Linked DNA regions of Homo sapiens. The protein of the gene in region 1 purifies or fractionates together with the protein of each later gene. This does not show direct contact. Each region holds a gene or a part of one and is shown on either strand. Other genes may lie near its edges.

Region 1 (2,964 bases):
TGTGATAAGTTGGTTACACCCTGTAAGTCTGATAGCTTTCAAAATTCATTTAACTCTTATATATTTTAAAACATCATCTAGTCTGTGCTGAATTATTTATTCAAAGGAAATATATGGGCTAGTATTAGCATCTGAGTGTTTATTTTGTGCCAGGCATCAGGCTATGCACTCGGGATAGATTTTATAATTTGATCGTCACAATGGCTGTAAGAAGTCCTCATTTCACATGTTAAAAAAACTGAAGTTTGGAGACATTAGCTTATGGTCACAAAGCTAGTGAAATGGAAGCACTGAGACTAGAATCCATGATTGTCTGACTCCAGGGTCCAGGCTCTTATAAACAATCAGACCTCATCAGGAGCTTTCTGAGACTAAATTAAGAATCCATTTTGTAATGCTTTGATAAATTGCAGGCTTTATACAGTTTCCAAGTCTTGATTACTCCCAGGATTTATCAAACTGTAAGAATTAAGCTCAATAAATAACAACTAATTGTAATTAAGCCAAAAGTGCTTATGATGGTGGTTCCTAATTTGAACCATATCTTCCTCCAACCCAAAAGAGGTTAGTCTTTATTACAAACCTCCCTCTTTATACACTGTGTAGTCAACTGTGCCTGAGCTGAAAACTTCACAACTGGTTTCCTGGAATCTTAAAAGCCAATCATGTTTTTTCCTGTGTATTGCATCACATCCTTACACTAACAATTTAGTTGATTTCTATTTTTAAAACAAAAACTAGAAAATTTTTACCCAAAGAAATAATTATTATAGCATATCAACCAAGTATTTCTCTCAGTGAAGAAAAAAATTCTATCTAAGGCTCTCATTCCAGATTGGCAAAACAATTTCTTCATTCTTTTTACTTGATTGGCAATGTTCAAAATGGCAACAAAAAAAATCTACCCCAGGCAATTCAGTGCAAAAGACTGTCATCTCAGTTACAACACCATGATTAAGGCTTTTCATACGAAAACAGAACTAATGTGTACATACCAGAGTACTTGGTTCTATTCATTAACTCATTTATTGTTTGCAGTGGGCATTTACTCCTAGAAAGCATGCCAAGTATTTCTAATGGGTTTTCACTGAGACAGTTTTTTGTTTTCATTAGTGATTCTTGCCTTTGTCATCACATTTGTTATTTCCTCTTCTCTTAGCTTTTCTGTATATCTATAAATATTTGTTGTCAAGTGATATCTCAAAGAAAAAATACATAAAAGGAGTTTCCTCACAATCAATGGTGTTGAGACAAATGCATATTTGGGGAGTAACATAAAAGTTCTACCTCTCAAGAAATGCAAAAACAAATTCCAGATAGATTAAATAGCTAAATATAAAAACGAAACTGCAAAAGTTTTAAAAGAAAATAGAGATTATCATGATAGTCTTGGGGAAACGAATGTTTTCATAAGCATGACATAAAACAGAGGATACATGGAAAAGATAAAAAGGAGCTGAATACATAAAAATGAGAAATTTCTGTACAAACATATGAAAAAGCCAAAAACTACCCAACAAAACTAAAAGCAAGAAATCTAAATGATATTTGTACACCCATATTCGCAGCAGCATTATTCACAATAGCCAAAAATGGGAAGCAACCAAGCATCTAGGAACAGATAAATGGATAAATAAAATGTGGTATATACATACAAAGGAATACTATTCAGCCTTGAAAAGGAAGGAAATTCTGGCACATGCTACAACAGAAATGAACCTTGAGGATATTATTCTAAGTAAAACAGGCCAGGATAAAAGTACAAATGCCATATTACTCCACTCATATGAGAGCCTTAGAATAGTCATTAATAGAAACATAAAGTAGAATAGTGGGTGCCAGGAGGTGGGGGAGGGGGAAATGGTGAGTTATTGTTTAATGGATAGAGTTTCAGTTTTACAAGATGAAAAAATTTCTGGAGATGAATGGTCGTGATGGTTTCACAACAGTGTCAGTGTACTTAATGTCACTGAACTGAACACTTAAAAAAAGGTTAAAATGATAAATTCTGCTATGCATATTTTACCTCAATAAAAAAAAGCCACAAACTTAGAAAGGACTTTTGCAACATCTGAAACAGGAAAAATATACTAACCATAATATTCCAAAATTCTTGACTAACAGCCAAAGTATTGCTACATATCAATAAAAAGACAATATGATAGAAAAAAAGATGCAGCCATGAAAAGGCCAATTCACAGACTACAAATGGCCAATAAAACAAATAAAAGCCCCTCACGTTCTGGTAGTTAGGAAAATTCAAATCGAAAAATAACAAATAGCATTGCCCATGAGAGTGGCAACATTTTTAAAATCATAAATGGTGGAGCTTTTGCAAAAAGGGACTATTTGTTAGTAAGAGTGAAATTTTCATATGTCAGTATCTAATTTGATACAATATTGTATTTGGAAAGGAATTTTTAATCTTCTACATTTTAAATGTACACACACTTTTACACATAAATCCCACTCACACTCTCTTACAAAATATTTTTAAAGTGCATAAAAATTTGTGATAGTGAAAATTGGAAGTAACTTAAAATTGACGATGGTGAAATGATGGTCTGTTATGAAAGACAAAAAAGAATGAAGTAGATCTGTATGTACTGACATGGAAGGAAGCAATCCATAATATTCAAAAAGGAAAAAAGCACCAAACAATACACATTATCAGTAGCATTATTCACAATAGCCCAAAACTGAGAACAATACACATGCCCACCATCGGTAAATGGATGAATTGTGGTATACTACATAATGGTAGTACTACACAGCAAGGAATACGCATGAGCTTTTACTACACACAACATGAAGATTCTCACAAACATACTGTTAAGTAAAAGAAGCATATATGATTCTATTTACATAAATTACTGAATACTTTTTTAAATTTGTTAATAGCTTTATTGAGCCTATAATTCACATACCATACAATTCACCCATTTAAAATGTACAATGCAATGG
Region 2 (3,500 bases), on another chromosome or scaffold:
TTATAGGTGTGAGCCACCACGCCCAGCTGATTTTTTACTTTCTTGATGATTCCTTTGAAGTATAAAAGTTTTTAATTTTGATGGTGTCCAGTTTATTTTTTCTTGTTGGCATTTATAAATGTGTTTTGAGAGTAACATCCATGGAAATCCCTGTGTATCATAAAAATATCATTTCATTCTTTATTTTACATTACTGCCTTATTGGTAAAATTATATACCTGCTTTATTTCCAGTCAAGAGAAGAGAGCAGAAAGCAGGCTCTTGCTGCTAAAAGAGAAAAAAGAAAAGAAAAGAGAAAAAAGAAAAAAGAGGAACAGAAAAGGAAACAGGAAGAAGATGAAGAAAACAAACCTAAGGAGAATTCGGAACTACCAGAGGATGAAGATGAAGAGGAGAATGATGAAGATGGTGAGAAACAAACCATCTGAATTAACGATAAAATTCTCCTTTGTTTATCAACTTCATTTTGAGTGCTCTTTGCTCTAGTTAACTCTAGTTAAACATTTGATTACTTTATTAATCTGAAATGGACAATGACTTTTATAGTAAATATTTGTAAGTGTTTTGCATTGTAAATTAATGCAGAGAAACAAGAGGGAAAACAAGCGCATAATTTGAATAAATTCAGTTGTAATTTAAGTCACCTTGTAAAACACTGCATATATACTAAAAGCAATACAGTGAGAAGTTTGCCACCTTTTTTTGAGATTCTTCTCTAACTCTTCCTCTCCTGATTAGAAGTAAAATTTCTCAGTTTACTTTTAGCTGAGATTCAGGCTCAAGGATATAGAGGCCTGAAATGTCAGTAGAGATGGGTTTAGTACTCTCAAAGAGTTATTTATTGTACTGTCTGGCAGTGCTTGTAGTAGGCAAATAATTTTGTTCTACTTGGATTCTAATTCTAAAATACTATTTGAAAAATGTCCTAAATTCAAATTATATTGTGGTTTGGGTTCATGAGACTAGAATTAAGAATATTAAGAATATTGGGCCGGGTGCAATGGCTCACACCTGTAATCCCAGCACTTTGGGAGGCCGAGAGCGGATCACGAGGTCAGGAGTTTGAGACCAGCCTGACCAATATGGTGAAACCCCGTCTCTACTTAAAAAAAAAAAAAAATTACAAAATTAGCCTGGGATTACAGGCGTGGTGGCACATGCCTATAATCCCACCTACTCAGGAGGCTGAGGCAGGAGAATTGCTTGAACCTGGGAGGCGGAGGTGGTGAGCCGAGTTCACGCCATTGCACTCCAGCCTGGGTGACAGGAGCAAAACTCTGTCTCAAAAAAAAAATAAAAAGAAAAAAAAGAATATTAAGAATGTTGCTAGTATGTGTGTCCTATACCACCTTAGACAAGAAAATATATTTTATATTTGTTCTAACAACAAATAATAGTAAATATTTATTAGGCTAACAAGAGCAAAGATTTTTTTTGTGTGTTTTTTTGAGATGAGGTCTCCCTCTGCCACCCAGGCTGGAGTGCAGTGGTGCAATCTCGGCTCACTGCAACCTCTGCCCCCCAGGTTCAGGTGATCCGCCCACCCCAGCCTCCCCAGTAGCAGGGACCACAGGTATGCACCACCATCCCCAGCTAATTTTTGTATTTTTTGTAGAGACAAGATTTCGCCATGTTGCCCAGGAGATCTTGAACTCTTGAGCTCAAGTAATCAATCCACCTGCCTTGGCCTCCCACAGTGCTGAAATTACAGGCATGAGCCACTGCACCTGGCCACAGTAAAAGATTTCTTTATTTCAGCTGGGCGCAGTGGCTCACACCTGTAATCCCGCACTTTGGGAGGCCGAGGCGGGTGGATCTTGAGGTCAGGAGTTTGAGATCAGCCTGGCCAACATGGTGAAACCCTGTCTCTACTAAAAGTACAAAAATTAGCCGGGCATGGTGGCACATGCCTGTAGTCCCAGCTACCCAGGAGGCAGAGGTTGCAGTGAGCCAATATCGCACCACTGCATTCCAGCCTAGGCGACAGAGCAAGACTCCATCTAAAAAAAAAAAAAAAAGATTTCTTTATTTCTTAGTGAATACTGGTGAAAGGAAAATATGATGTAAAACACTGAATTATTATGAATTATCAAATATATTCTGTCAGAATTTGTTTTGAGATCTGTGACTCAGTATGATTTTTATTCTTTTTAACAATTTCAGTGGAGCAAGAAGTTCCCATAGAACCTCCTAGTGCAACCACCACCACTACGATTGGAATCTCTGCAACATCTGCAACATTCACAAATGTGTTTGGGAAAAAAAGGGCCAATGTGGTGACAACTCCCAGCACCAATCGGAAAAATAAGAAGAACAAAACAAAAGAAACCCCTCCTACAGCACATTTAATTTTACCAGAACAACATATGTCTTTAGCCCAACAAAAGGCAGATAAAAATAAAATAAATGGAGAACCTAGAGGTGGTGGTGCAGGTGGGAATAGTGATTCAGATAACTTGGACAGCACAGACTGCAACAGTGAGAGTAGCAGTGGTGGTAAAAGCCAAGAGTTAAATTTTGTGATGGATGTGAATTCCTCTAAATACCCCTCACTGCTCCTTCATTCCCAAGAAGAAAAGACAAGTACTGCTACTTCCAAAACTCAGACACGGTAAATTTTTCTGATTTGTTAACTCTACCTGCACCTTTCCTTCTTCATGCCTGGTACAAGAATTTGAAGTATATTAATCCAAGTACAAGTTGTGTTAAACAATTGAAGTCTACCACATTATCTATCTTCAATATTCAAAACTGAAATTCACCCATGTCCTCTTTATCATTTGCTAGTTAGGAAATGAGATTATTAGAAATTTTTATAGGATTCATAGTCTGAAGTTGAAAATATTTGCATGCTTTGATTTTATCTATGTCATTTTTATTGATTATAGTCTAATTTTTGGCATCTGAATCCATTTTAATACTAAAATAAATGATGGGTTCTTTGCTCTATTTCTGTTTTTCTGACTCATTGATTATTTGATGTGCCAAAGTTTAATACGAATATTTCAGCGTAACTCTGGCTATAAAGGAATAGTCTCTTGAGTTTCTATCTTAAAACTTATCTTTTATTGTACTTGCTATTTGTCTCTTCTTAGACTTGAAGGTGAAGTGACTCCTAATTCCTTGTCAACCAGCTACAAGACAGTGTCATTGCCATTAAGCTCTCCAAACATAAAGCTGAATCTCACTAGCCCTAAAAGGGGTCAGAAAAGAGAAGAAGGGTGGAAAGAAGTTGTACGAAGGTAAATAGAATTAGTTCCATCTTTTTAGCTTTCATATATTTTCCCTTTCTCATGTGAGATGGCTACCTAGTTAATTAATGAATAATTTGAATGTGGTTATTATTTTAAACTGCATTGCCACACTAAATCCAGAATATGCTAAAGCAAAATTAGAAGCAGTATGTAAATTTTGCATGCATATTTTATATGACACAAGAAATTTTGGCTTTTTTGGATAACCTCAGTTGCTTTTTATGTAGTTCAAATGTAAAGGCTTTC

The links. The genes of interacting proteins can lie anywhere in the genome.
Region 2: the proteins of DBX2 (region 1) and ANKHD1 purify together in Homo sapiens (affinity purification with mass spectrometry, with the first as the bait; one large-scale study listed by BioGRID). This does not show direct contact.

What each region holds. Positions count from the first base shown.
Region 1 is NC_000012.12:45,017,136-45,020,099, forward strand, and holds part of DBX2 (homeobox protein DBX2), read right to left. Parts: intron 1-2,964.
Region 2 is NC_000005.10:140,523,833-140,527,332, forward strand, and holds part of ANKHD1 (ankyrin repeat and KH domain-containing protein 1), read left to right. Parts: intron 1-233; coding exon 234-408; intron 409-2,163; coding exon 2,164-2,611; intron 2,612-3,095; coding exon 3,096-3,242; intron 3,243-3,500. Other genes in the region: ANKHD1-EIF4EBP3 protein, read left to right, coding at 234-408, 2,164-2,611, 3,096-3,242. UniProt on the Homo sapiens protein: May play a role as a scaffolding protein that may be associated with the abnormal phenotype of leukemia cells. Isoform 2 may possess an antiapoptotic effect and protect cells during normal cell survival through its regulation of caspases.